Linked DNA regions of Homo sapiens: regions 1 and 2 are each linked to region 3. Evidence: fine-mapped expression QTL. A gene starts in region 3. Each other region holds a variant in brackets. All regions are shown on one strand. Distances are from middle to middle.

The links. PIP is the estimated chance that this variant, and not a neighbour inherited with it, causes the effect.
Region 1: its variant is fine-mapped to the expression of CCDC149 in whole blood (TOPMed, PIP 0.96).
Region 2: its variant is fine-mapped to the expression of CCDC149 in whole blood (INTERVAL, PIP above 0.99).

Annotation. Positions count from the first base shown.
Region 1 is chr4:24,972,630-24,982,914 of GRCh38, forward strand. It overlaps LOC102723675 (a long non-coding RNA gene), which reads left to right and starts at 7,189. Exons shown (of 6, transcript XR_007058082.1): 1 at 7,189-7,941. It also overlaps a transcript of CCDC149 not described here. The variant T/C (reference allele first, on the strand shown) is at 3,881.
Region 2 is chr4:24,949,223-24,959,507 of GRCh38, forward strand. It overlaps a transcript of CCDC149 not described here. Among named protein-coding and RNA genes, the nearest start is that of CCDC149, 41 kb to the left of the region's middle. The variant C/T (reference allele first, on the strand shown) is at 5,925.
Region 3 is chr4:24,908,095-24,918,379 of GRCh38, forward strand. CCDC149 (coiled-coil domain containing 149) reads right to left here and starts at 4,948. Exons shown (of 13, transcript NM_001395273.1): 1 at 4,723-4,948. The coding sequence starts at 4,770. RefSeq lists enhancers at 8,745-9,314, 9,315-9,883.

The sequences.
Region 1 (10,285 bases), 65 kb after region 3:
CCTAAGAGGCCTGGGGAGTCACACACTACAAACTGTAAAATCTCATCAGAGACATTTTATTTAAACCTGTCTAACTGACTGACTTTCCAATCTGACCCTGGCATAACATCACATGACAGATAAAGAAGGAAATCAAAACATTTTACCCCAAAGTATGTTTATTTGTCACACTTTGAAATAGCCTGCAACTTTGTTTTTGTGGTGGAATTGCATCTGTAACGAATCTCTGTTAACTAGATATTTCCCCTTCCAGACCCTCCCAATCCTGAAGGGACTAACTGAGGGTCTAGCACTTTTTAAGGGTTTGAGCAGGAAACATTCACCATCTTTTGCCTGTAAGGGTGGGCACCCATGAAGCTTCATCTATGTAACAAGAACCTTGGTTTCCACAACCCCTCATCTTGACCTAGACACTCTTCTATTGATTCCAGGTCTTTAGATAATAACTTAATTCTTTTAATCAATTGCCAATCAGAAGATCTTGGAATCCCCCTATGACCTGTAACCCTCCCCTTCAAGTTGTCCCACCTTTTCAGACCAAACCAATATATACCTCACATGTATTGACTGAAGTCTTATGTCTCCCTAACACATATAAAAACCAAGCTGTAACCCAACCACCTTGGGCACATATTCTCAGCACCTCTTGGGACTGTGCCTCAGGCCTTAGTCACTCATATTTGGCTCAGAATAAACCTGTTTAAAAATTTTATGGAGTCTGACTCTTTGTGTCGACATGGTGGTGGTCCCATGGGTGTACACATATGTCAAAACTTATCCAATTGTACACTTTAAGTATATGGAGTTTACTGTATATCAACTGTACCTCAATAAAGTGCATTTAAAAAAAGTCTGGAGAAAAAGAAGTCCCCTTTTGTTTGCACTTGGAGCTGTGATTAAGCATGCCTGAGGCTACTGGCAGCTATCTTGACATTGTGAGGAGAAAACATGCTTGAGAGTGAGGCCAACCCAGAGGATAAAAAGAACTGAAAAAGGCCAGAGTTAGACCAGATTCCAGCCATCCATCGGTACTGGATCCAGCTGTGCCTACAGCAGTCTCTGGAATTTTTGCTCATTGAGACAATACGTGTGTGTGAGTGTATGATTAACCCGGTCTGAACTGAGTTTTGTTGGTTACAACTGAGGAGTTCTGTGCAACGTTATCCACAGTCCACCAGGCAGGCTGAGAGCTGCTTCTTAACCAGCAAGTGCCTCATGGAGGGATTGGGTTTGGGGTTATGGAAGTGAACAGAGCTGCCTGCCTTAAGGCAAGTAGGCCTTGCTCTGTTCCCCTTGCAGTCCCCGAGCCCGGGAAGCCCGAGAGGGAGCCCTTCAGTGCTTGTGCACTCGGCTGTTTCGCAAGAGTCACGGTCAGTTGCGCCTCTGCTTCGGAAGAGTATTTTTAGTGGCAAATAAAGTGGTGCGCAAATAAACAAACGCCTGGAACAAATCCTGCAAAGGAGAGCGCCTGTGTGCGGCCCACTGTCTAACTAGGTCAGCCTCGGGCACAGCTCCTTTTGACAGTTTGCTCCCCAGGGCGGAAGGTGACCCGCAGGTGCCGGCTGCTTTCCCCACCAATCAGCCATCTGTGGTTTGAGACTCACAAGCTTAGGAGAGACTCGGGAGGCATCAGTTCCGCATCCCGCACTCCCACGTGAATTTGCCCCCGCCCTGAGTCAGAACCCTAGAGGGGTGAAATCCCTGAATTCTGCAGAGGAAACCCATACTTCTTTGCTTTTTCAGCAATTCCAGGAGATGTCGTTTTTCAAGTGGCAAATGTGTGGCTCTAGAGGACAGAGTAACCACCTTGCAGCCAAGAAGCCCTGATGTCAACTCCCAGCTCTGCTGCAGCACCCAGAAATCACCGGACCTTTCTGCATCTTTCTGGGTGACTCTGTCATGAGGATTTCATAATGTAATTCCCTAGCACATAAGAATTTCTCAACCAATATGGCTTTCTTTTTTCCTTCTCACTAGTCTTTGAGCTTCTTAAAGGGAAGACATGTCCTATTCATCTCTACACCCCCCACACCAGTCTGCATTCAGTAAGTGCTCAATCAATGTCTGCTGAATCACATCTTCCCACTCAACTGCATGGCCTCGGATGATCCAATTCTGTGGGACTCAGGGTCTCCCTGATTCTGAAGATCTCCATTTCAGCCACCCCATCCTGGTGCTTTTTCTGGAGAGACTGGGAAAAAGGTGAGCAGAAGAGAATAGAACCAGGAGAGGGAGTGAAAGAGGGGTTGAAAGGGGGTTGGGGGAAGGAAGGGGAGGGAAGGGAAATGCTATAGTTTGAATGTGTCCCCTCCAAAATTCAGATGATGCCAATGTGATAGTAGGAAGAGGTGGTGCCTGTAAGAGGTGATGAGGCTGTGAGGTTTCCTTCTTTGTTAATGGGATTAAAGGTCTTATAAAATAGGCTTTGCGCAGCATTGCACTAGCTTGCTCTCTTGCCTTATGCCATGTGAGGTTGCAGCAAGACGCCCCTCATGAGATGCCAGCACCTTGATCTTGGACTTTCCAGCCTCCATAGCTATGAGAAATAAATTTCTGTTCTTTATTAATTACCCAATCTCAGGTATTCTATGATAACTATTCTGTTATAGCAGCACAAAACAGACTAAAACAGGAAGGGAAGGGAGGAAGACAAAACAGAAGATAGGAGAGAAAGGGAAAAGAAGGGAGGCAAGACAAAAGGAGAAGGGGGAAGGAGAGGGAGGGGAGGGGAGGAGAAGGCAGAGAAGAGGAGGGGATCTTGAGGGGAGGGGAGAGAATGTAAGAGGGGAGGGAAGGAGAAGGAAGGGGGAGGAGGGGGACAGGAGAGGGAGGGGAGGGGAAGAGAAGAAAGCGGGGAGGAGAGGGGACAGGAGAGGGAAAGGAAGGAAAAGTAGGATAGGGAAGGGAAGGAGAGAAAAGATGAAAGGAGAGGAGAGGGGAGGGGAAGAGAGGAGAGGGAAGGGGAGGAGAGAGGAAGCATACGTCCTGGGGAAGGAGCTCATTGATGGGGCTTGGGTCCATGCCCATCCCTGAACCAGTCACTGTGCACTATCACTAAGTCCCGTGTCCACCCCTGCAACCATGAAAGTAAACACAGTGTCAAGGGTGGTCCCCCAAAGAAAGGAGAAGTAACGGGTCCCAGGCAAGCAGAAACCACAGATGTCTTCTCTGCCAATCCCGCATCTGTCTTTGAATTTTGTAATTAGAAATGAGTTTTTTTTTCTGATCAGGCCCATCATTTAACTCAAGCCTGGTTGGGGGTCCTGGGAAGGGCAAAGTCTGTGTTCCAGTGTGGTCCATGCATACAAGGAAGAGAAAAGAAGAGAAAAGGAGGGTAGAGGAGGAGAGGGGACAGGAAAAAGAAGGAGAAGGGAGAGGGAAAAGAGGGGAAGGGAGGGAAGGAGAGGGAGGGGGGAAGGGAGGGAAGTGGAAAAGAGAGGAAAGATTTGGTGGCAATCATTTGAGCCCCGTGTTTAGCTGTGCCTACTTTAGATTTTTCAGTTATTTGAGCCAATAATTACCTTTTTCCTTAAATGAGTTTAATTCTTTTTAAGAGTACGTGGAGCTCAAAGAGATCCTTACTAATCTATCTGGGCCCCTTAGAGTAATTCCAGGGTCCATTTATCAAGGAAAGCAACATGGAGCACAGGCAGAGTCCCCCACTTGAGGCCATCTGCAGGTATCCTCCTTGCTTGGGCACTGTGTGGCCCTGGAACCAGGCCTGTGTCAGGGTGAAGGGCTGGAGAAGGTGGAAATGGGTATAGAGGTATCACCAGGACATTTATCCAAAGTGTGTCATCAGGCTGGGTGCGGTGGCTCATGTCTGTAATCTCAGCACTTTGGGAGGCTGAGGCTGGCGAATCGCCTGAGGTCAGGAGTT[T/C]GAGACCAGCCTGGCCAACATGGTGACACTCCATCTCTACCAAAAATACAAAAATTAGCTGGGCATGGTGGTGCATGCCTGTAGTCCCAGCTACTCAGGAGGCTGAGGCAGGAGAATTGCTTGAACCCAGGAGGCAGAGATTGCAGTGAGCCGAGATCGTGCCACTGCACTCCAGCCATCTGGGCAACAGAGCGAGACTGACTCCCTCTCAAAAAAACAAAAAACAAAAAGTGTGCCATCATCTGGCCTGCGCTGGTATAGTGTCCTTTCTGAAGGATGTTCCCAGAAGTGTTGTCAGGTGTGTGCAATGGACTCCAGCTCTGGAGCCAAGCGGGGATTTGGAAGCTATGTGCGATTGTGGAGAACATCTGGCCGCTAGAGGAGTGTGCATGGACCACACTAGAACACAGGCTCTGCGCTTCCCAGGATGCCTATCCAGGCTTGATTAAAGGATGGACCTGATCAGGAAAAAACAAACAAACAAACCTCATTTCTAATTACAAAATCCAAAGACAGGCATGCAGGATTGGCAGGGAAGACATCTGTGGTTTCTGCTTGCCCGGGATCCATTATTTCCCCTTTCTTTGGGGGACCACCCTTGATACTGTGTTGCTTTCATGGTTGCTGGGGTGGACATGGGACTTAGTGACGATGTACAATGACTGGTTCATGGATGGGCATGGACCCAAGCCCCATCAATGAGCTCCTTCCCCAGGACATTGGCTGGAGCTTTGGGAAAGAGGTATTCTTTTTCCATCGAGGACTCCAAGCTGGCAGGTTGGAGATCCTCTTAGCTATCTTGTGTGGAGATGCTGCCTAAGATCTACTAAGCACAGACAAAAGCAGAGCCATGCGTCAGGAAATATCCATTTCTCCCTTGATCCAGCCATTCCTGAAACCACGTGCATTCATTTTACAAACTAACATTTCACTCCCCAACACCTCTGTTATTTATAGTTAAGCCAGTTTGAATCAAGTCTCTGTCATTTGTGGCCAAACAAATCCTAATTAATATTATCTGTGAATCAACAAGCCTGTCTAGCTAATACCAGATGTTGAAGATGATAAAAAAGATGATGTCGTGGACCCAAATGAAATACCTAAGGTGTGGTAGAAGGCGCCCAGCACTGGAGTCCAGCTCTAGTCCCAGCCCTGCTACCCCTAAAGAGGATAAAATAGCTTAACCTCCCCTAAGGCATTACCAATACAGGGATGATAATACCACATAGGTCTGCCTGTTAGGAATATTGACCAGATGATAATATGCATGTGAAAGCATTTTGAAATTCAAAAGCTCAATACACACATAGTAACAAGGTATGCTATAAATCTATGCTACCTGGCTGGGCACAGTGGCTCATGCCTGTAATCCCAGCAGTTTAATAGGCCAAGGTAGGAGGATTGCTTGAGGTCAGGAGTTCAAGTCCAGCCTGGGTAACATAACCACAATCCCATCTCTACAAAAATAAAAAATTAACTGGACTTGATGGTGCACACCTTTAGTCCCAGCTACTCAGGAAACCGAGGCAGAAGGATTGCTTGAACCCAAGACTTTGGGGCTGCACTGACCTATATTTGCACCACTAACTCCAGCCTCAGTGACAGGGCAAGACCCTGTCTCAAAAATAAATAAATACATGAATAAATAAATCTGTGCTGTCCAACACAGTAGCTACTAACTACCTGCTGTTACTGAGCATGTAAAATGTGGCTAGTCTGAGCTGAAATGTGCTGTAAGTGTAAAACACACATCAGCTTTCACAGACTTGATTTTTTTAAATAATATAAATATCCTATTAATAATTTTTATATTAATTTCATATCGAAAGGATATTTGTGATCTACTGAGTTAAATAAAGTACATTGTTAAAGTTAATTTCATCTGTTTCTTTCCCCTCATTTAATGTAGACACCAGGAAATTGTAAGTTGCATGTGGTGGTTTGCATATGTGGTTCACATTCTATTTCTGTTGGCAGCACTTGTCTAAATTGTGAGGGATGGTTCGTTGTTGGCGTGGGAGGTCAGTGAATTCTGGAGGAGTCAGAAAAATCAGAAAAACCTCAGATGAAGAGACAAGGATGGGGGTAGGATGGCATTTGGAACCCATTCTCCATGGTTGTTGTCTCTAATTTTCCCTGTGAATAAAATGAACAGTCTTCCCTTTCCCCATCATTCCTCCCACCATTCGCCACCCACCGCCCACCAGAGAATGAGATGGTTTTAGCATCCTGTGTGCTTTTCACAGCTGAAATGCTGGCAATTTTGCCACAGATTCAGATCTACTCGGACTCACTGGTTTCCTTTGGTAAAATGCCCCATATCCAGAAGGGAAGTCTGCTGGCTTCTCTGACCTGGGCGTGTCTTTAGGATTTCTCAATAGGATGACATCTGTGGCTGGTTGTCCAACACTCATGGCTCCCTTCTGGAAGCGGTGCACTTTGTTCTTACCCTGAGTTACCCCGAAAAGGAGACCCTGAGAAGGACTGCATGCAAATGGTTTGGGGGCACAGGAATTGCAGGGAACACTTTGAGAGAGCAGGGAAGTGAGACAGGGAACAAATGGAAGCCAGTAAAGGGTGAATTAATGAGGCCACCATGGGGGACATGGATTCAGTGTCTTGGGAAATACCTTGAGAAATACTGTGCAGCATATCTCCTTACTGTCCCTGTGTAAGGAACCTGGGATATTTATTAACTAACTTTTATTCCTTAGTATTGAGGGTCAATCTTGGGGTGTTAACTTTCTGGTATTTCCAGCTTGGGTGTACACCACCAGGAACAGGGAATGCCCTCAGACAGAAAGATGCAGGCAATCTTTGAAGTATACAGGAAATGTCTGCAAGTGATCTTCAGGATAGGCTGCAGGGAAATGGTCAGAGCACAGACAGGGTCTGCTATACCTTAGAAGAAAGAGAGAAGACATGGAGAGAAGTGGGGTCCTTGGCAATAGTCCTGATCTACTGGATCAAGCCTTACTTGAAGCCTACCTCTAGACTTGTCATTACCTGCCCCTATATATTCCATATGCTATTTAAACTGGTTTGAGTTTTCTGTTATTCACAATGTAATGATTTCTAACTCAGTCTTTTCCTAACCTGGTTCCTACAATTGAGCAGATTCCCTGTGGTTTCAAAATCAGGAAACAGGGCTGATGGGTAAGTCATGTCATCATTTCCTTCCTGAAACCAGAGTGCAACGGAAAGAAAAGGAGGAGTTGCATGGGATGGTGGCCAAGTTCTCATTGTGACCCAGGGACCATTACAGTAAAAGGAACCTGCCTAGGGAACTTGCTCAGCTCTCTCTAAACACAGTCAGCTCCATGTTCCCAACTGAATGTCACGTCAATGCGTCGATGTTAATTCCGGTAAACTGAATCCACCCGAGAATCTTGTTGTGGAAGCAAAATCGGCTTAAAAGGCTTCTTTGATGCACAGGGAATTCTCACAAGCAATAAATTAAAAATAATCAACGAGTTATTTTATATAATCTGTATATAATATAAAGTAATTGTGTCCATAAATAACGAGGCAGTTAAACAGGAAAAGAAAGGATTTTTACCTGACGTTCACATCGCTTCACAAGGTTTAGTGGATTCAGAAGGACATCTGGACTCCAGGAAAATTTAAGCGTAGCATTTTGAGACTTCCCTAAGGCCCCCTTCTCTAGTACGCAATCGCGGATTCACCAGCTTGAGTCAGTTGGCCTCAGTTTTGCTTTTGGAGGTTTAAGTCGGGTGGTGGGAAGAGATACATTTCCATTCCTGATATGGCCACAAGAGGGAGCTCCCAATGGTCGGCTGCACCTGAAAGTCCTGTCCGTGAAAACTGACAAAGAAAACTTGATTTAAAAGGCGTCTTCTGATAAACCTCAGCATCTCCTTACTAACATACTAAGAGCAATCACTGAACACTTTTCGTATGTTCAATGCGTCCTCGCGGGATCTGAGAAGCATTGTCCTATTAAATCTCAGTCGTCTGATTTTCAGCATCAATTTATCTTGGGAGCTGCTCCTGCATTTTATAAGGTGAATTCTACAGCAACGAGATTAAAGATTCAGAAAGTGAGTAAAGTTAACACTGAGCCCTTGGGCCTGGTAAATTGACAACGGAGCCAGAATAAGTATTTACCATTGTAAAGCTCTGATCCTCATGGCACAGTTGTTTCTGAAGAATGCTACCAGCACTTCCCTGCCCTGCATTTGTCTGGCTTTTTCCATTCATATTTGAATCGATTCTCTCTCTCTCTCTCTCTTTTTTTTTAATTATTATTATCATTTTCCAGGGACTTTGGGTCATTATAAGATTGCAGGTAATGACAGACTGTAATTAAGCCTAAAACAGATTTTTCTTTTAGGAGACAGAAGAATCCACTCTAGCTGAGACTCCAGATTGCCTGGGCTGTAATTTACGGTGCTATCACAAAGGGGTCCTTTTTCCGCATGGTGCTCTGCGGTGATGAGCCAGAAGCTGAAGCTGAGGGGTGTGTGACTCTCCCGCACACTCTCTGGAGTGAGCAGAATGGACGCTTAAATGGCTAAGTATAGCTTGAAACTGATTACAGGCCAGATCCCACTATTGTGCATCATCAGTTGTCATTGTTGAGACTGAAATTGCACTGGGATGTTTCTCTTTGTCACCGGCTCCAAGCTCATTTCTAGGACAGGAGTGAAACCGTATGGTGAGCCTCGGGCCCAAGCACAGGGAGAATTGTTCTTCTGGTGTGTCCCCCAAGGAAGAGCTTGGCAGGTCTTTGGCAGTGGAAGATGGGCTGGCTTCAGTCATGATACCTATAACATTGGTATTGCTAGGGCTTCCAGATTTATGGATAGTAAACTCTAATCTCTAGCAAAGAAGGTTGAAATTGTAGCTCTTCCTCAGTTGCTGTGTGAACTTAAGCAAGCAGCTTAACTTCTCTGGCCTTAGTTTTCTTATCTGTACAACAGAACTAATTATAGTTACTCTCTGATATGGTTTGGCTGTGTCCCCACTCAAATCTCATCTTGAACTGTAGCTCCTATGATTCCCACGTGTTGTGCGAGGGACCTGGTGGGAGATAATTGAATCAGGGGAGCAGGTCTTTCGTGTGCTGTTCTCATGATAGCGGACAGGTCTCACAAGATCTGATGGTTTTATAAAGGGGAGTTTCCCAACACAAGTTCTCTTGTCTGCTGCCATATAAGACGTGCCTTTCACCTCCCACCATGATTGTGAGGCCTCTCCAGCCACATGGAATTGTGAGTCCATTAAACCTCTTTTTTTGTAAATTGCCCAGTCTTGGGTACGTCTTTATCAGCAGTGTAAAAATGGACTAATACACTCTCCTATTCTCAAGGTAGATTTGCAGAGCAATGAAATGAGATATATGAAGACCCCAAGATATATATATATATATATATATATAGATAGATAGATAGATAGATAGATATTCACACACACACACATACACTCAGGCACTGTACACACACATGCACAAACATAATAGGCATAGAAGATATAGAAACTACCCATATGCCCATATGTATTATTATGGGTATGTGTGTGTGTGTGTGTGTGTGTGTGTGTGTGTGTGTGTGTGTGGTTTCTTGGTAAAAGCACTGGGGTAAGACTATGGAGCGTTCATATGCTAGGAGATGAAGTCTGGACCTGACTGCATAGTAACGATAATAATAATAATCTTGCATTCAGGGCTTATTGTGAGCCAGGCACTGTTCTAAGCTCTTTGCATGTATGAAAGCAGCGGTTTTCAATAGAAGCATTATCAGCATTCAGGCAGAACAATTCTTCATTGTCAGTGGGACTGTCCTAAGCCTTGTGTGATTACCAAAGGTCTCTCAAGACCCTCATCATCTCTGCTAACGAAAGGCAGCCCAACTCCCCTGCACTTTTAAAAACACCCAGCTGAGAACCAATTGCCTAAGTATAGATATGTACTCTCCAATATGGAAGCTACTGGCCACGGGTGGCTATGAATGGCTTGAAATGAAGTTAGTCTGAATTGGAGTGTGCTGCAAGTGGAAAAAAAACAAACACTGGATTTTGAAGATTTGGCATGAAAAAAATCGTATTAATATTTTAAAAGATTGATTACATGATGAGATGATAATATTTTGGATAGATTAGAGTAAATGAGGTATTTAAATTCATTTCACCTGATTCTTGTTGCTTTTTTCTTTTTTCTTTTTTTTTTTTTTGAGAGGGAGTCTCACTCTGTTGCCCAGGCTGGAGTGCAGTGGCGTGATCTCAGCTTACTGCAACCTCTGCCTCCCAGGTTCAAGCGATTCTCCTGCCTCAGCCTCCTGAGAGCTGGGATTACAGGCACCTGCCATCATGCCTGGCTAATTTTTGTATTTTTGTAGAGATGGGGGTTTCCCCATGTTGGCCAGGCTGGTCTTGAACTCCTGACCT
Region 2 (10,285 bases), 41 kb after region 3:
AAATGTGGCATCTCTTTCCTGCTGGGACAGATGCACTCGGAGACTTCTTAGGTAAAACAGACCAGAGAGGCTCTGCCCTGAATGTAGCTGGGGCTTCCGTGCACACAGTATGCCCCACCCTCATGCGTTTACAGGGACCTGATCCTGTGCAGAAAGACACTTCCAGCTTCTGAGATTCCTTCCAAATTGTCAGCTGTAGAGAGGTAGTGGTGGCAGGGAGGGGGGGTGGTGGGGGGACTCCCTCATCTGTCATTATTCAAATATATTGAGCTCCTATATTTGTTTATTCACTCATTCAGCTAACACCAGTGGAGCACCTCTACTGACCCAGATGCTGTGCTAGGTTCTGAGGTTAAGGGGTAAATAAGATAGAATTCCTAGTCTCAAGGGGCTTACACACATTTGCAAACACACAAGCCAACTACGAAAACCTCAGAGCCAGAAAGAAAGGGCCCTGAGATATTTCTCATCCACAGCAGCACTGAGGCCAGGAAAGCAGGACTCGGGCTCTGTCAACCTGAGAGAAAACAGCAAGAACAGTGCATTGTGGAGTTAGGATCTAATTCCCTGCGTGGGAAGGAAGTGGCAGGCAGGAGAATAAGACCAGTGGGATCTTTCCCCAAGATGTTGTCAGGGATTCATCCGTGGACTCCCCGGGGCCTGTGACTAAGGTGGGTGGTTGCTTTAGGAACCTGCAGGTGCACAGAGGGGACAGCAGAGGTGGCCGTGAAGAGAAGGATGGCGACAGAGGTCATAGGTTATGCCAAGGATCAGAGAGTTTGGCTCATACCAGAGGCACATGGCTGAAACCATCTGTGTGTAACAGCCATCTCTGCAGGGGTCACCCCTGACCTGGAAACTCAAGAGAGAAATTGTTGTCCTGGTAGAAACTGGTAAGGACAGCCTTGACATTCCTCAGCCTCATGAGGTGGCAGAGAGAGTATGCCAGAGCCCCTGTCTATATCACAGTGAGAATGCAAAGGCTGTGAGCATGAACTCTGGAGCCAAACTGCCCAGGGCTGAATCCAGTCTTTGCCACTTGCTGCCAAGTAATACTATTTTTGTTTTCAGCCTTCTCATCTGTGAAGGGTGATTCTAATCCAACCTCATAGGTGGGTTGTGAAAATGTATTTAATTAGTATCTGCAAAGCACTTAGCACAGTGCCTGACACAGAGTAAGCGCAATGCAAATGTTAGTTGTTATTACTCAACATCACTTTACTATTTTCATTTCAGTATGGACCCCAAATCGAGTGGACTCGGGGGTGGGAATATGGCTGCTGGGAATGAGCAGAACATTGGAAGGGGAGTGGAGAATCCCAGCCTTTGGAGTAAGACAAAGATTTAAATCTAAACCCTGCCATGAGCCAGCTCCATAATCTTGGCAAGCACTTAGACCTTCTCCAATCCTCAGTGTTCTCATCTATGAAATGGGGATAATTATCGTACTTACCCCTTAGGGTGGCAGTGGAGGGTAATAACAAGTTCCTTTATTTTTCATTTACTCATTCATTCACGTATTCAATAAACACATTTTTTCCCCACCATACAAGCTATGTTTACTAAGGAAACAAACTTCTTTCCCAATTCAGGGGTCTGGGGCCTGTGTAGCCACCATTCAGAACCTCTAATAAGCAGGACCTGGCCAACGTGGCCACAGGAAGTTGACTTAATGAGAATTAAGTCTTCTCATGTCTTGACTGGCTGCTCCCTGTGTTCCTCAAATCTAGCATTTGGGAAACAGATTCCCTCAACATCATAGCTCAGCATCTATGTATCTTTGGGGACCCCTTTAGGTTAAAAAGCAGGTGTTGTCAAGCTGGGGGAGTGGGGAAGGGGGCCTCAGGCAGGGATACACAGGAAATCGCTACCTGCAGTGGGTGATCACCACATGTGTGGGTTCCGTGGGTGCCCAGGCTGTCACCCGGGCTGCAGGCAGCAAGTGACAGATCCCATGCATGCCTCCTCATTTAAATTCATTCCACAGTCCAGATCTGCCTACACCCAAGGAGCCTTCAGGGCAAGCTGCCCCGAATGTTTCCATTCAGAATCATGCATCCCCTCTCATTTTTGGAAGCTTTTAAACTTCAGGGTGGACAGCGTGGCCCTTGGGAATGTGCTTTCATGCATTAGGAGTCGATTTTAAACAGCAAATATGCCATAGTCAGTCATAGAGGTAAATAATAATACAACTTCAAAAGAGCAGAGCACAAAAGAGAGGCTATTATTAATGGGAAAAATAATTTTAAAGTCATATTAAAAAGCCTCAAGTCTAGTGGAAAAAGCCAGGAAATGGGAACAAAATTAGCATTATTATAGCTTTTCATGGTAACTTACTCTGGGTTTTTCTGGTGGCTTAAAAAAAGCAGAAAAGAAGGGAAAAGCTGACTGATAACAATTTATCCGACCAAATACATTTCCCATCCCAAATGCACCTGTGATAGTGACTGTATTTAAATTGTTTCCTTTTTATATCTGTTTTGTGGCCATTTATACCTCACAGTGTTATTAGAGAAAGCAGCATTTTGTGTGGAATGGTAAACAGTAAAGCTCTTTGAGGCCTTTCAGAAAGAAGTGCAATTCGAGGGGCAGGAATTATTATTATTAATTTGCATGTTAATAATCCAAATCTTCACTAAAGCCCACACTGCAGATGCACCCTCTGAAACTCCGCAGAGGTAAGTGCTGTATATTAATGGGGCACCTTTGGTCTTAGAAGAAAAGGAGTTTCTGTGAAGGACGAGACCTTTTCCTTTCTCAATTTTGAAAGGAGAGTCCTCTTTTTGTTGGGTGCTCATTGCCTTTGCTTCAGTTAAACTGTTCCCTTCTCAGATCATCCTCTTTCTCATCATTTCACATAAAGTCCCCAACAATTTCTCTCAATTAGGCTTTAGGGCACTCACAACCCCACTCCTCTGGAAGCATGGTGAAGCATACGTGTACACATCTGTGTGCAGTGTGTGCTAACGTGCACGCCTCAAACCTTCGGCTTTGTTTATACATATGTGTATTCTATTATTAATGGTTTGGAGCCATTTCAGTTCTGAAGTAGGCGAAATTTAAGTTACTTTTTAAAACATATTTTTTGGCTGGGTAAGGTGGCTCATCCCTGTAATCCCAGCATTTTGGGATGCCAAGGCAGGAGGATCACTTGAGGTCGGGAGTTCAAGACCAGTCTGGCCAACATGGTGAAACCCCATCTCTACTAAAAATACAACAATTATCCAGGCATGGTTGCAGGTGCCTGTAATCCCAGCTATTCAGGAGTCTGAGACAGGAGAATTGCTTGAACCAGGGGGCTGGGCAGAGGTTGCAGTGAGCCAAGATCACACTACTGCACTCCAGCCTGGGCGAAAGATCAAAACTCCATCTCAAAAAAAAAAAAAAAAAAAAAAAAAAAAAAAATATATATATATATATATATATATATATATATATATATAGTGGTAAAAGACACATAACAAAAAATTTACCCTCTTAACCATTTTTAAGTGTGCAATTCATTGATATTAAGTACATTCACGTTGTGCAACCACCACCACCATCCGTCATCGGAACTCTTTTTATCTTGCAAAACTGAAACTCTGTACCCCTTAAATAACTCACCTTTCCCCCCATCTTCCCCATCCCCTGGCAACCACCATTCTACTTTCTGTTTCTATAAATTTGGCTACTTCAGACACCTCATGTAAGTGGAATCATAGAGTATCTGTCTTTTCGGAAGAGATTTTTTATGAGAAGTCTAGGTTTGAGAACATCTGTTAGAAGGTGATTGTGATGCCAGTGGAATGTGACTGACAATACTGGGCTGCTCTGTGAGAGCAACCTGACCCTCCAATAAAGTGCTCATTCCCCCAGTAACAGAACTTGCCCCCCTCCAATTGTTGCCCACTGTCTATTGGGTCCAGAGAAGACTGGCAAGTGGATGACATCTGAGAATTGAAGGGATACCACTTCTCTAGCATCTGGCTGGGGGCTCCACTGGAGTAGCAATCAGTGATCAGAACACAGATTCCTGATTTTGGAGGATGGGGCCCTTTTTGCCCACCCTGGCTCTTGCAAGCTGTGTGCAGCTTCCTCCAGGAACATGTGCATTGTTACAAGTCCCTCCCTCTCCAGCTGAAATGACTTCCAGGAGATTAAAAGGGCTCCCCCTGCTTCATTTTTGTCTTTTCTGCCTTTTGAGACCCAAACATTAAAGACTAAGGCATTCAAAAACAACTGCCTGTACTAGCAAAATTAGAAAGTGACTGCGCATAGCCAGGAAAAGGCACATGCTCAGAAAAGACCCCAAAAGACCTCAAGTTTATACCTCAACCTGATCCTTGGCAAACAGCAAACTCTAGAGAAGCAAGATGATCTGATTTCTAGTAGTACCGGATTATTATATACAAATGTCTAGTTTTCAACAAAAATACTTCAAAGCATGCAAAGTATGGCCTATTCAGAGGAAAAAATAATAATCAGCAGAAACTGTCCCTGAAAAAGACCTGATGCCAGCTCTACTTGCCAAAGACTTTAAAACAACTGCCTTAAAGATTCTCAAAGAACTAAAGGAAGATGTGGAGAAAGTCAAGAAAATGATGTCTGAACAAAAGGGAAATATCAAGAAGAGAGAAAAGCTAAAAAGAAACCAAAAGAAATTATGGTACTGAAAAGTATAATAACTGAAACAAAAGGCTCACTAGAAACATTCAAAGAGAGATTTGAGCAGGCAGAAGAAAGAATCAGTGAACTTTAATTTAGGATGATGAAAATTATTAGTCTGAGGAACAGAAAGAAAAAAGATGGAAAAAAAAAAGTGAACAAAGCCTAAAGAACCTATAGGACACATTGTGGAGGTCCCAGAAGGAGAAGAGAGAGAAAGGGACCAAGAGAATATTTGAAGAAATAATGGCTGAAAACTTCCCAAATTTTATGAAAGACATTAATATAAACATCCAAGAAGCTCAACAAGCTCCAAGTAGGATAAACTTAGAAAAGACCCATAGACAGCTTCAAGACAGCCCTGCCCCCATGGCTTTGCTGGGTACAGCCCAGGCTTCATGCATTGAAGTCATATGCTTGCAGATTTTCCAGGCAGGTGCTGCATGCTGGTGGTTCTACAGTTCTGAGGTCTCAGGGATGGCCCTGCCCCCAAGACTCCACTATGTTTTGTGCTAGTGAGGGCTCTCTGTAAGCTCTGCCTCCGTGGTAGGTCTCTGCCTGGGCTCTGAGACTATCCAAGATATCCTTTTAAATCCATGTGGAGGTAGCCATAACTCCACAGCTTGTACACTCTGCATGCCTGCAGCATTAGCACCATGTGGATGCCACCAAAGTTCACCACTTGTGCTTTCCTGAGTGGTGGCTTGAGCTGCACCTAGGCCCACTTGAGCCACAGCTGGATTTTTTCTAATGCAAGGAGTACTGCATTGGAATGCAGGGAGCAGAGATTCAAGATGGCCCTGAGCAGTGAGTCCTGAGGCCCCCTCCCTAGAAACAGTTCTGTCCCCAAGGTCCTAGCACTCTGGGCCTGTGATAAGCATGGCAGCACTGAAGAGCTCCAAAATGCCTTCAGTGTCATTCTCCCACTGTCTTGATGAATAGCACCTGGGTGCTTTCTATTCATACTGATCTTATCAAATGGTTGCTTGGTCATACTCTTGGTTTTCTCCCCTAAACATGCTTTTTAATTATTTACATGGTTAAACTGAGAATTTTTAAAATTTCTACATTCTGCTTCCCTTTTAATTATAAATTAAATAATTTCTCTACATTTTATTATAAGTAGTTAAGATATACAGTATCTCAGATGCCTTGCTGCTGGTATTTGTTATAGCAACACCCTGCTTCTGGTACCAACTTTTGTCTTACTCCATTTGTGTTTCTATAACAGAATATCTGAGACTTGGTGATTTATGGAGAAGAAAAGTTTATTTTTC[C/T]CTTGGTTCTGGAGACTGGGAGGTCCAGGATCAAGGCACTAGCATTTGGTGTCTGGTGAGGGCCTTCTCACTGCATCCTTCCAGAGGGGAGGAACCTTCTCTCCTCACACAGCAGAAGGCAGAAGGGCAAAAAGGGCAAACTACTCATATTCTGCATTTGAGTAGCCTCTTTCATAGAGCCTTAGTTCCATTAATGAAGAAGGAACCCTCAAGGCCTAGTCACTTCTTGTAGACCCTAACTCTTAATACTATCACATTGACAACACGTGAATTTTGGAGAGGACACATTAAAACCATAGCAATGAGGAAATAACCCAAGTATCCATCAACAAAAGAATGAGTTAGAAAAATGTGATATGTACATACAATGAAATATTATTCAGCCTTAATAAAGAAAGAAACACTGACACATACTACAACATGGATGAACCTTGAGAATATTATTTTAAGTAAAATAAGCCAGTCACAAAAAACAAAAACAAAAACAAATATTGTATGATTCTACTTATATGAGGTACTTAGAGCAGTCAAAATTATAGAGACAGAAAGTAGAAGGGTGGTTGCCAGAATCCAGGGGAGGAAGAAATGGAAAGTTGCTGTTCAATGGTAATAGAGTTTCAGTTTTTCAAGATGAAAAGAGTGATGGAGATATGGTGGCAATGGTATTAAAAAATATTATGAATGTATTTAATGCCACTGAACTGTACTCTTAAGGTTACATGGTAAAGTTTATGTTTTGTGTTTTACCACAATAAAAAGTTTGAAGAAAATTCTTATAGAGACTTCAGTTGAGTAACACTTTATTCACACCCTTCCTACAACCCCAAATAGAGGAACACAATCTTTGCTTGAATCTTCATCTAAGGAGATGGCAGAAAGTTTAACGCATATATTAGACTCTAGCGGTGGTTCTGAAATAATTGGAGCCCAATTGTTAGACTACTGAGAGGCAAAAATATAGGCCTCAAGGTTTTCATGTATCATCTCCCAAATTAACTGGGTGTATGCTGAGTCATTTCTCCTTTTGCTGCCTTAGAGGACAAAGTTCTTGTGAGATGACAGCAAACCTAGTTAACACAAACTACACAAACTAACCCCATAACAAGGATTTCTCTGAACTTGCCCCAGGCCTGATAGTTCCAACTCACCCTCTCAGTGACCCTCTATTAACATATGTAAAGACTTTCAAAGTGACTTCTAAAGCTATCTTGTTCATTTAAAGGCTGCTGACAACCTTCTGACTCTTCTCCAGCCTAAACTTCTGAATTACTATATTGCCATTCCTGCGAGAGCTAAACCAGACCTAGGTAATTTCGGGCTATTAATATAAATTACTTTAGTGATCCACTACCTCAGCTCTCCCCAGTATGCACCCACACACATACCTTACCTGGGGCCCTCCATGCCTATTATATCGATGATATCATAGCAATTGGGCCCAGTGAGCGAGAAGTACTATGGATGCCACAGTAGGACACTCTAGGAGATGGGAAATAAACCCTACGAAGGATCAGGGGTCTGCCACATTGATTAAATTTATAGGTGTTCAGTGGCCTGAGGCAGGCCATGACATTTCATCCAAAGTAAATAAATAAACAAATAAATTTATTGTATTTTGAATCGCCTACCACTAAGAAGGAAGCAGAAACTTGGCGGGTCTCTTTGGGTTCTGGAAGTAGCATACTTCATTCACACTTGAGAAAGTGTATACAATCTAATTTATCAGCTGACCTGAGGCTTTTAGCTTGAATGGGGCCCAGAGCATGAAAGAGCTCTGTACTAGGCCTAGGCTACAGTATAAGCATCCCTGCTATTTGAGCTATGTGACCAAGAAATCCCATGGTACTAAGCACATCACAAAAAGATACTGTGTGGAATCTCTGGCTCCAACATTGGAGCTCAAATCCCTAGAATTATGGAATAAAGCCATGAAATCTATGGCAGAGAACTCTACTCAAAACACAGCTCCTGGCATACAACTGGGCTCTGGTAGAAACTATCTGACCATGAAGTATCATGTGGCCAGAGCTGTCTTTTATAACCTGAGAACTGTTAAATCCACCAAGCAACAAAATCAGGCACATCCAGGGACCTTCCATTGTTAGATAGAAATGGTACCTCTGGGGTTAGAGGGCATAAGTCATCTCCCCAAACCAGTAGCACAGATCCTCATGTAATCTACCAGTGTTTCATTGACTCTCCTCTTTAAGCTCACATGTATAACTTTATGAGAGGTTCTCTACAACTAGCTGAAGGAGGAGTATTAAGCCCAAACTCAGCCTACTGATTTATTGACTTGATATGAAGGTGTTGGCCTAAAAGGGACCACCACCATAGTACAATCCCATTCAGGTACAGCCCTAAAAGACTGGGGCCAGTGTACCTGGTTGTCTATTTTCCATGGAGCAATAAGAAATTTAAGTCAACGGAATACATGTATTCATAAGCAATGAGCAATGCTTACATCACGGGTTAGCAAACTCTGATCCATAGGCAAAATCCAGGCCAATGCCTATTTTTATAAATAAAGTTTTATGAGAACATAACCATGTCTGTGCATCTCCATATTGTTTGTGGCTGCATTTGCAAGAATGGCAGAGTTGCAACAGAAACTGGATTGCTTACAAAAGCAAAAATATTTACTATCTGGTCCTTTACAGAAAAAGTTTGCTGACTCCTGACTTACATAGTTAATAAGGGAATGGGAAGAAGCAAGATTGGAAGATTCGGAATGGGAAGGTCTAGGAAGGATGTGGGTGGACTCCTGAGAGTAGACATCAAGTATAGTATCTTCATATAGTACACCCAAGTTCACCAGAGAGTATCTGGTGCAAAAGAGACATTAAACAACCAAAGGGGCTGGTGCCTCAGCCAGTAGACATCAGGAAATGTCTGTCCTTGGTCATCCCAGTTTTTATGCAATAGGTTCATGAATGAAGTAGTCACAGTGGCAGATATAGAAGCTCTTTATGACTCAATGGCATAGGTTCTTTCTCACCAGGGCTCATTGACCTACTAATGCTGCTGATATGTGATTTGCCAACAGTAGAGACGAATACTTAGCCCTGCATATGGTAGCGTACCTTGAAGAGTCCAACTAGCCACATTGAAGCAAATTGATTATACCAGAAGACTTTCCTTTGGAAACGGCAGTGCTTTATCATGATCAGGATTGTTTCTTCTAGATGGTTTGCCTTTCTGCCTGCAGTGCCTCAGACTACCTATCTGAAGCACCACTATCTAAAGCTCACAAAGTGTCTGATTGCTAACATTGGGATCCTACATTACATTTCTTCAGACCAAAGACCCACTTTACAACAAAAGAGATGGGCACATAACATTGAGATCCACTAATTCTATCAACTATTCCACCATCCAGATCTGACAGTTGACAAGGACGTTAAAAGTCATTATAATCATTTTCATATGTTGTAAGATATCTTAAAAGACTCAACTCTAACTTCCAGAGATTAAAACTATAATACTTGAGGTAAAAAAAAATGCACTATATGCAATTCATGGATGATTCGATATTGCAGAATTAGTGAAGATCAAGGCATAGCTATAGAAAGTATCCAAAATGAAAAACAGAGAAGAAAAAAAAGCCAGGTGCGGTGGCTCTAACCTGTAGTCCCAGCACTTCGGGAGACTGAGGCGGGCAGATCCCTTGAGGTCAGGAGTTTGAGACCTGCCTGGCCAACATGGCGAAAACCTGCCTCTACTAAAATTATAGCCAGGTGTGGTGGCACACACCTGTAATCTCAGCTACTCATGAGGCTGAGGCGCTGAGGCACGAGAATCACTTGAATCCGGCATGTGGAGGTTGCAGTAAGCCGAGATCACGCAGGCAGAGCCACAGCTCTGTCGCCCAGGCTGGACTGCAGTGGCGCGATCTTGGCTCACTGCAAGCTCCGCCTCCCGGGTTCAAGCAATTCTCCTGCCTCAGCCTCCTGAGTAGCTGGGACTACAGGCGTGTGCCACCACGGCCAGCTAATTTTTTTGTATTTTTAGTGGAGATGGTGTTTCACCATGTTAGCCAGGATGGTCACAATCTCCTGACCTTGTGATCCATCCGCCTCAGCCTCCCAAAGTGCTGGGATTACAGGCGTGAGCCACTGCGCCCGGTCAAAAAAAGTTTTTTTAATATAAAGAATATCAGTGACCTGTGGGACAACTGTGTTTATCTGCCAACCCTAACATCTAACTCAGTTCTGGGTTGGTCTCTACTGATTGATTATTCTCCTTGATATGAGTTGTGTTGTTTCCCTGTTACTTGGCGTGTTTGGTAACCTTTGACTGGATACCAACCTAGTTGGAGTTCCCAAAGGAGAGGAGGAAGCAGCACAGAAAAAAAAAATTTG
Region 3 (10,285 bases):
CCCTACTTCCAAATAAGGTCACATTCACAGGTGTTTGTGTGGTGGCAGTTGAGGGGAGGGTGTTAGGACTTGAACACATCGTTTTGGGGACACAGTACAACCTACAACATCAGCCAGTAAATTGCCTCTAAGCTGATCCACTTTGGTTTGGGTTTTTGATCTTTTGTACCAAGAGAAAGGCAGGGCCAAGACTTCCCCCCAGGTCTCTTATTATCTTCAGAGTCTAAGTCAACAACTGAAACCCAAAGCTGGGTCTTTACCTTAACCACAGAGCTGGACTCTATACCTACTCAACCTCTCCTTTCCAAATATCAGTGGCTAGGCCAGGCACGGTGGCTCATGCCTATAATCCCATCACTTTGGGAGGCTGAGGCAGGATTCCTTGAAGCCAGGAGCTCAAGATCAGCCTGGGCAACATAGCAAGACTCTATCTCTACAAAAAAAAAAAAAAAAAAATTGGCTGGGCATGGTGGCACGTGCCTGTAACTCCAGCTACTCAGGAGGCTGAAGCAGGAGAATCCCTTGGGCCCAGGAGATGGAGGCTGAAGTGAGCCATGATCGCACCACTGTACTCCAGCATGGGCAACAGAGTGAGACCTCATCTCTAAAACAACAACGACAAAAACCAAAAATCAGTCTCTACTTTGGGCGGAGGCCCATGGTTAACTGTCTTCTGCCTCCTGGCCCCTGCATACAACATGCTCAAGGAATAGGAGATTGATTGCTATCTAATTAACCAAAATTCAAATAGTGAAATGGAATTATGTATAGTTTATCATAGAGTGGTGGGCTGAGCGATGACCAGGATTTTTATCTTGGAAATAAAAAGTTATTGATTGCCTGCATACCTGTACTTTGAGATGTCTCCAATCTTGAAAGCTCACCTCAGGTGGCGATAAGAATATCTGCCCCTCCCCAGACATTTAATTTCCAAAACAGAACCCTGGTCATGCTTCTTTCACACGCATGGGTGTGTTTACTTCCAGGCCTGAAAGAAGGCTGTAATTTCAGCTTATTATACCAAATATATGAAAATAAAACTGACCTCTGTAGGATTGTTTTAAATGAAAACTGCTTCCTAGAGGCAAGTGGAGGAAGCAACTGATTGAAAGAGAGGACGGGGCTCTGGGCAGGTGATGGAGAGGGGATCCAGGGTGGGAGACAGCACCCAGGACTTCTGCAGAAATAAATGCAAGCCCACGAAAATCCCATGTAGTCCAGATTAGCTGTGCAGTGATGTCTTCCACAGGTCCTTCTGCCAGGTCCCCAAACCATTTCGTAACACCACAGCTGCTGAGCACACTCTTCCCTGAATCTTACCTGTCTGGTACCAGACCCAGTCACACCCATGGAACCCCTGCCAGCCAAACTTGACTGGGCAGGGGAATTACCTGGGCAGCTCAGCTTGTAAGAAAGGCAGATCAGGGGGCTGCAACCCCAGGCACTTTTCAGCAGTAGGTGTATTAGTTTCTTGTGGCTGCTTGATATGGTTTGGCTCTGTGTCCCCACTCAAATCTCACCTTGAATTGCATTCCCATAACTCCCACATGTTGTGGGAGGGACCTGGTGGGAGATAATTGAATCATGGGGCTAGTTTCCTCCATAATGTTCTCGTGATAGTGAATAAGTCTCACGAGATCTGATGGTTTTATAAAGAGGAGTTCTCCTGCAGAAGCTCTCTCTCTTTGCCTGCTGCCATCCATGTAAGATGTTACTTGCTCCTCCTTGCCTGCTGCCATCCATGTAAGATGTTACTTGCTCCTCCTTGCCTTCCAGCATGATTGTGAGGCCTCCCCAGTCATGTGGAACAGCAGGCCCATGAAATCTCTCTTTCTTTTGTAAATCACCCAGTCTCAGGTATGTCTTTATAAGCAGCATGAAAACGGACTAATACATTGCTGTAACAAATGATCATAAACGGGGTGGCTTAAAACAACAGGAGTGTATTCACTCACAGTTATAGAGGCCGGAAGTCCAAAAGCAAGGTGTCAACAGTTGTTTTTTTCTGGGGACTTTGAGGGAGAATCTGCCTCTTCCAGCTTCTGGGAGCTGCCAGCGACCTCTGGCATGCCTTGCCATGTGGCTGCATCACTCCAATCTCTACCTTTGTCTTCACATGGTCTTCCTTTCATGCATCTCCGTCTTCCCATAGCCTGCTCCCTTGTGTGTCTGTGGCTTAAATCTCTGTCCTTTCTCTTCTAAGGTATCAGTCATTAGATTTAGGACCTACCCTAAATCCAGGGTGATCTCATCTAAAGATCCTTAACTTGATCATATCTGCAAAGGCCCTATTTCCAAATAAAGTCACATTTGCAGCTACTGGGGTTAGGTCTCGGATGCAGCTATGGTGGGGAGGTGGGGGGAGCAGGATACATAATTCAACTCACTACAGTAAATTTGGGAGAGACCCATAAACTTGAATTTTTCACAGGCACCCAAAATGACTCTGATGCAGGTGATCTGTAGGCCATACTCTAAGAAACACCAAGCCATTTGCTGCGGACTCAAAGTTGAATCAGACATGGTCTCCTTCCTTGGGAAGCCTGCCATCTAGCAGAAGATACAGACAGATGAGCAATGATTAAAATAGCAAGTGTGGCCTAGCAAGGCTCAGACAAGCAAGGCTCAAGCAATGAGTCAGACAGACCAGGATTCAAATCCTGCCTCTTCCACTTACCAGATGTGAGGCTCTGTGCAAGTTCCTTAGCCTGTCTGAGCCACTGTTTCCTTATCTGTAAAATAAGAAAGAATTCCTACCTTATGTCATTGTGAATATGAGGCCATGTAAAATGCTTAATATGAAGGATGCACTCAAAAAATAGTCATTAGTTATTATTAAGGTGGGAAGTAAGTTAGACCCATTTTCACCTCCCCCATGGCCCCTGGCTACGTGCCCACCTCATGTTTGTGAAGTTAAGGAGGTATTACTCTGGAGAAACTCTGCTGGGATGGGCAGGAAAACTCCTGAAGGACCTACTTCAGGATTCACTGACTTATTCAACAAGCATTTTTCGAGCACCTGCTGCATACAGAGCTCTGTGTATAGGCCCTGGAATAAAGAACCAAACAAAGCACACGGCCTAGTGAGGAAGCCTATTGTTACAATAATGTGGTCAGGGCAAGGTGAAGGTTAAGCCCAGCCAACTGAGGGGCACCCCATGCCATTTAGCACTTGAAGCCTTTCCATCCTTTAGTTCACTCTCACTGTCTACGGTATGACCTTCCTCCCAGACTATATCATGAAACCCCCAGGAGTTCTTTGAGGGTAGGGGAGTTCTTTGTCTTATTCACCACTGAATCCCAAGCACCTCACAATGTACTGACTCCTAACAGGCACCTGATATGCAATTGTTGGAGTAGTGAAGATTCTGCTGCTATTTAAGGGCCTAACACTGGACTTCTAAGGAGAACTACCTCCAGCCTCCTTGACTACTAAGTATGATTCTTGATGGGACCAGAAACAAGGTCCCCAGAGGATCTGCCCCTTAACATAAAGCCTGACAGTTTGAGAAGATGGAGCCAGGCTGCAATACAATGGATCATAACACCAGACAGTTAGGAGAGCTTTCAACTACTAGACCAATGCTGAGCAAACTAAACTAGGGCAGGAGCTACCGCATGTCATTCCTCTTCAGAAACACAACGCTCTGCACACACTGGGCATGAAGCACTATTATCAGACTGACCTGGAGACCCAGAAAACGATGAAAGGAGTGAGGGAGTAGAGGGTTTCCCTTCCCATAACCCACAAGGAAAGGAAAAGAGCAAACCGATACACTCTGCATTGTGTGCACAGGATTAAAGAAAAGGAAGCCCCAAGTTGGCCTTGGCTGGAGCTTGGTTCTCAGAAGGGAGAAATTCCCCGGCATGGGTAAGTAACACCAGGAATTGCCCCCACAAATGGTGGCAAACCAGGGCAACTTACCTGGTTGCCTCCAGGTGAGAGGGAGAAATCCGCATTCCCTCTCACCTGGAGAGGCCGGCAGCTTCTCCCGGCAGGCCGGCAAACTCTTAGGGGGAACTGAAGAGCAAACAGCATAGGATCCTGAAAGTGGACCCCCAGGGTATGTTTATGACAAAAGAGTCGCAGGGCAGGGGGACACGGTGTTCTGTGCTTCCACAAATCGAATCACTTCTGCACCTGTGTTTCACTTTTTCGATAAATGCCCCTCCCCACCTTACACATGGTAGGCCTGCAGTAAACACGTGTTGATTGAATTGAGCAAGTGAATGAGTGAACGGCTGCAGCGGACCCCCGAACTCCCCCAACTCGAACCACCGCCGCAGGTAATTCCACCTGGCCCAGGTTCCACCCCAGGGCTCGGATTCTCCCCCATGGCACCACCTTCCCGTTTCAGTCCCAGGCGTCCAATTGTTTGGCTCCACAACAGTGGCGAGCGGGCAGGCAGGTGGGGCTTGGCACCTTCTGCTCCCGGATCCCAGGGCTTCAGCCTCCAATCCAGGGCCAACCCCTGCCTTGGGGGGAAGGCCCCTCCCCAAAGGCTGACACCAGATGGCGCGGAAGAAAGTGGCGCCCGCGCAGACCCGAAAGTGCAGGAGGAGCGGCGCACCTGGCGGGGTCGCGCGGGTGCGGCAGCCGCGGCCACTTGGAGTGCGCGCCCCCCTCTCGTCCCTCCCAGCTCGGCCTCTCTGGGGGCGCGGGCCCGGGGCTGGCGGCCGCTCGGCCCGGCCCATCCCGCCTGGCCGGCGCCGCGGCCTCACCTCGCTCACCAGCCCCTGCCAGTCGCTCTCAGTCCGGTCGCCGTTCATGGCCTCCTCCTCCATGCGCTGGCCGGCCTCCTGGACCCCCGCCGCCTCCTCCTCCTCGCGACGTCGCGTCGCCGCCGCCGCCCGGGCCCCGCGCGGCCCCGAGAGGGCCCGGCGCCTCCGAGCCGCTGCGCCGCCGCCTCTCGCGGCCGCCAGCGCTGTTGACTCCACGTCAGCCTCCGCCGGAGGGAAAGGGAGGAGGGGCGCGGCCGCCGGGGCCGCAGACACAGCCCGGGCCGCAGCCGAGCCCCGCCGGGCCCGCCCCGCGCCCTCAGCCCCGCGACCTCGGGCTCCGCGCCTCCTGCCCGGCCTCTAGGCAAGGGGAAGCCAGGGTCTCAGCCTACAGGTCACTCCGGACCCCTCAGCGCTCTCCGCGCGGGAGGCGGGCCCCACGGGCAGGCCTGTGTCCCCCGCAAGAAGCAAATCCCCAAATCCAGTCCTTCTCCGACCACCATCACGACTCCCACGCCTAGAATGCAAGCTCCCCGAGGGCAGGGGTTTCCTTGGTTCGCAGATGTGCCTTTGGCAAGATCCTGGCCCATAGGAGATGCTCTACATATATTTATTGGACGAATATTTGTTGAACGCAAGAATGAATGAACCACGTTTTATTATATACTTAGCATTGTTTTTTAAACTATTAGTGCTTGCTTATATATTTTTTAACGTATCATTTGTCATTAATAGAAAGCAAATGTAAAAATTGAAAATAAAGCATTATTCAATTCTAAATAGGGCCAAAAACTCTGAGGGAGATGGTTAGCATGGGTTGAGAGAGGTGTCAAAGACAAATTGGCACTGGTGGCATTCCATGGCTCATGCCTGTAATCCCAGCACCTTGGGAGGCTGAGGCAGGAGGATCCCTTGAGGACAGGAGTTCAAGAGCAGCCTCGGCCACAAAGTGACACACCCCCTCTTTACAAAAAATAAAATAATTAGCAAAAGGGGAAGGCATTGGCATTAAGCTGAGACTTCTCCTAAGAGGAAAGACTGAAAGAGAATGACAGAGGGAAGGTGAATCACACACATAAGTCAATCGTATTCAAGGTGCTGTTCCTGTGACACCTAAAATCCCCTCTTGGACCACTATCAATAGTGAGCCCTCTGTACTCGCAGAAACGCTGTGTGTGGAGATGAGCAAGTAGGTTGAGAAGTTGTGAACCCATTGTACAGTTGTGGAAGCATCATTACCAACATTTATTTATAATTTTTAGCCCCTGTTGATCCTGGATCAACCCTGTGAAATGGATGTTATCCTCATTTATTAGATGGGGAAACTGAGGCCTGAAACGTGGAGAAACAGGGACTCAACTAGGACTTCTGGCTCTAGCATCTTGGAAATCTAAGAATGAAGTATCACCTTGAAAGTTTGTTCTTGGCCTTGTTTTGCACATGATAGACTGTTTGCAAAATGGCAGCAATCATTCCCCTTCTTTGTCCCTTGCCCTGCCACTGTCTCTTTCACTCTGTGCTCAGTCATGTAACTTGCTTTGACCAAAGCAACGTTTGTACATGTGTTACCAGAAAAAAAAAAAAAAAAAAAGAAAAAAAAAGGCTTTTAAAGCAATTGTGCATTAGGATTTAACTCTTGCTTCTGCTCTTGGAAACCATGTAAATAAGCTCCGAATAGCTTGCTGGTTAAGGTAGGATTCCCAACCAACAGTCAACCATCACCAGATGTGTGAGTGAGGCCATTGCCTGCCGCCCCCTCCACGCCCCCCCACCCCCACCCGCACAGCTGATGACAAGCACATGAGTGAGCCCAGCTGAGACCAGCCGAAGAACCATCCAGCTGAGCCTTGCTCAACTAGCTGACTCACAGCATCACATACTAAATAAGTAGTTGTAGTTTAAGCCACTAAGTTTTAGGGCGATTTGCTAGGTATCAACAGGTAACTGAAATGGATGGTGACACAACTGATGAAGGGCCTGAATGGCTTGAACTCTCCCTGGCAGCCCTTCAAAAAGCAATAGTCCCTGGCATCATAATCTAAAGAAAATTTTACAACGGACTGGCTGGCCAGGAGCTAAGAAAAGGAACCAGTATACTAGTCAGCACATTGGTTTTCTGCCTGTTGTATACAACTGCAGCACTCATCCTGGGGAAGTTCAATAACATTGCACACCATGGTCCCTGTCCTAGGGGGCTTGCAAACTAAGGTGCTAGAGAACAGCAGAAAAAAAGGTGGGGCTAGAATGCAGCTAAAGCTTCTGGTCTTCTGACCATTCTGGGCTGCCTAACTCATTATCTTTTTAATCTAAGGAGCTAGAAAGAAGGTCATCCTTGAGCTGAATGTCTAGAGTTAATTAACTCAGTGCCAAGCACTTGTTCCTAAGCCTGACGTCTCATGCCTAAAAAGCAAGGTACTGTCTGCCAATATATTGCCCTCTGGCAAACCATCTGTTTTCATCCTGACCTGTGGATAAATAGACTGTAGGAAAAGTGGGCAGAACTTGGTCCATCTGCCTTTCAAGCCTCCTTGTCTGCACCTTGCTCTCTGCCTGCATTCAGGTGGGAAAGCCCATTCCAGTTTCCACAGTTAGCTGAGCCCTTCATGATATACCACTGCTCCTTTGGCGCCCTCACTGGTATTTCAGGCAGCAGGACAGACAATCAATGAGCGTTGGGAGCCAAGAAATCTTCGCATTCCAGACTATGTGCCTTTAAGACCACTCTCCCTGTGACTCCATTTCCCCTATTTGCTTTCCTTCTCCGAAATAAGTCAGACAGTTATTACGGTATTTAAAAATAAAGCTGGGGAGCAAAATCAAAGTGTGGCAAGCCTCTACCCTCCCCAGCATGTGGGGAGACTTTCAACTCGGTTGAAACAGCATCTCTAGCTGCCTGGGTTTTCCTTAGAGGTTTCATGCCCCAAGTGCCAGCTCAAACCTGCTTCGCTTGTGAGATGTGATGAAATCACAAACCAAGGCAATGTAGCTGCAAGCAATTCTTTTTTATCTCTTTTCATTTATGTAGCCTGACATTGAGTAATAATAATAATTAAATGCAGTTTAAGCTTTTAGGCACCTATACCAGAAGGCCTCTAGACACCTCATCAACAGCAGCCCAGACTGACAAAAAAGAGAGCTAATTATATTGTGGTTAACTTTTTTCAAAGAAGAAATAAACCCATACACCAACTATCTTTATCCCTGATAAAAGCAGTACATTAAATGTCCCATCCGACAGTCCATTTGCACAGGATCATTTTAAAACCTGGTGCCCTTGTCTTAAATGTGCCACCCTGTTACAAAGTATTGAGACGTTTGCTTTAGCCTCTATTTTCACATCCCCTTGGCTTTCTGAAAACTGATCTCTAGGGACCTAATTTTTCCATATATATTCATAGCCCCGGGACCAGTTTTATTGATTTATTTATGTGCACCTATAGTGTTAGAAGAAAGTACTTAGTTGCTTTTGAGTGATGCTTTTCACTTTTAAAAGTTTGAGAGGGTTTTAGACATGGAAACTCCAAAATAGCTTAATCTAAAAACTTGAGCCAGCACAGACTGATGAAAACAAACAAACAAAAAATCTCTGGAGAGATTGGGAAAGAAAGGATGATTTGAACTTATTGTTAGCAACCTAAGCTCTCATTATGGGTTCTATACTTACTTGCATGAAGACTCTGGCCAGGTCTCGGCAGCCCCAGACACGCGGGAAAGCCCTAAAGCTTTTGATGTGACTTCTCCAGACAGTATTTCAGTTCAAATTCTGGCTGCCCAAGCAAAATTCGGGCTGTTGGAGTTCTCATTAAAGGAAACTAAGCAAATCTCCAGTAGAGATTTTGGCCGGGCTTCTCTCTGAACTATATAGTTGGGGCAATATTCATGGCCATTTTTTTTCCCCAGTGACTTTTCTCCTGCCTCAATTAAGAAACTCAATCTGGGCAGAAAATGATTCATAATGACTGTGGTTTATAATGGTGTGTGTGTGTGTGTGTGTGTGTGTGTGTGTGTGTGTACATATATTTATTAATTAGCTCTATATGAGCCAGGAGGGCCATTTTGACAGGTCCTGCCAGGAGCCCCTATAGCCTGGCTGCTAAACTACTTCATTTGCTCTTGGTTTTAACCAGGATCAGGAGACTGCAGGTCCTGGTGAGTGCCACAGCCAGGCCTCCTGCAGAGGCCTGAGACCTGAGGTCCCCTGAACCACTGGCCTCAATTCTGTAGAAGATAAGCTTCTCTCTCCTCCCCCTACCTAGAGGTTCTCTGGGAAGGACCTCATCCATCATTTCCCTACAGAGGGCCAGCAGCCAGATACCAGAGGGGCAGATGGGGGATTCTGGCCGGGTTCCTGACTCAGGGAATCCTCTGTGTCTCTTAGACCCCTGAGCTCCCAGGTCCTCTCACGGCCACCCCTGCCAAGCCCTCCCTGCCCAGCGGCAAACAGTCAGCACGAGCTGCTCCCCTCCAGCCCCGCTGGCTGCCAATCAGCCAGGCAGCAGGGGGTGGAAGGAAGTTGCACTCCCTGCTGAACTGCCGCGCTCACAGTGGCTGAGTGGGGCTGATGACGGCCTGGCAGGCCGGGGACCCGCAGTTGTCATCCTAAGGGGGCACAGGCTTGAGCGTGATTGGCTTGGGCGTTGTGGGAGACAAGAGGTGGGGAGGAGCAGAGGTGGAAAGGCCACTCCTTGGCTGTTGGAGGGGTTCCCAGAAGGGGGACTAAGATGTCAGGAGAAAGGAGGATGACCAGAAAGGAGCTGAGAGACAGAGGGAGAGACAGGGCCTGGGGTGCCGGAGGAGAGGCCTAAAGATAAAGAACCATGGGAGGAGAGCGGAAAACCGTGGGCGTCGGTGGGGTGGGGAGAAACCCAACCACAGGCTGGTGGGGAAAGTGGATCGAGATGCAGCCCACGGAAGGAGTTAAATGGAAAAGAGACAGGAAAAGTCATCTGCTCTCAGATTATTCAAATTTGTTGTACTTATTGATAATGTATTTCATTTCTTCTGCGTGGGGGGGATATGATTCAGCACAAATTTGATGTAAATTTATGGAAATGGAAACGCAGAGAGGCAGCAGGGCCCGTGCTGCTGACGGGTTAGCAGCATGGCCCTTGGCGAGGTGGAGGTTACTGCACCCTGGACTTGGGGAGCTGAAAATAGAAACGTCTGACTTGGGGGTCACTGGCCTCTCCTGCAGGCCAGAAGAGGGACTGACCCTGTCGTTCTGGAAGCCTTATGAAAAAAAAAATCTGATGAATGTCTAAAATAGGATCACCTACATTGCCCTCCTATCTAATTTTTGTCTTAGGGTGGGGGACAATCTTTAGCCAGTGGATATGGGTGGAAAAGGAGAAAAAAGAAGAGAATAAACATGATCAAGGACCTACTGTGTACACAGAAATTGCTAGTGAAATGACAGAAATGATTTTTCTTCTGTACTGTAGAAGAATAATGGGGCTTGGGGATGGGGAAAAAAAACAAAGAAAACAATTTGATCGAGAAGGTGAAAAGGTGGCATTTCATATAAATGGCCAGTGCTGGTAAAATATTTATTGTCCATTAGGCTGTC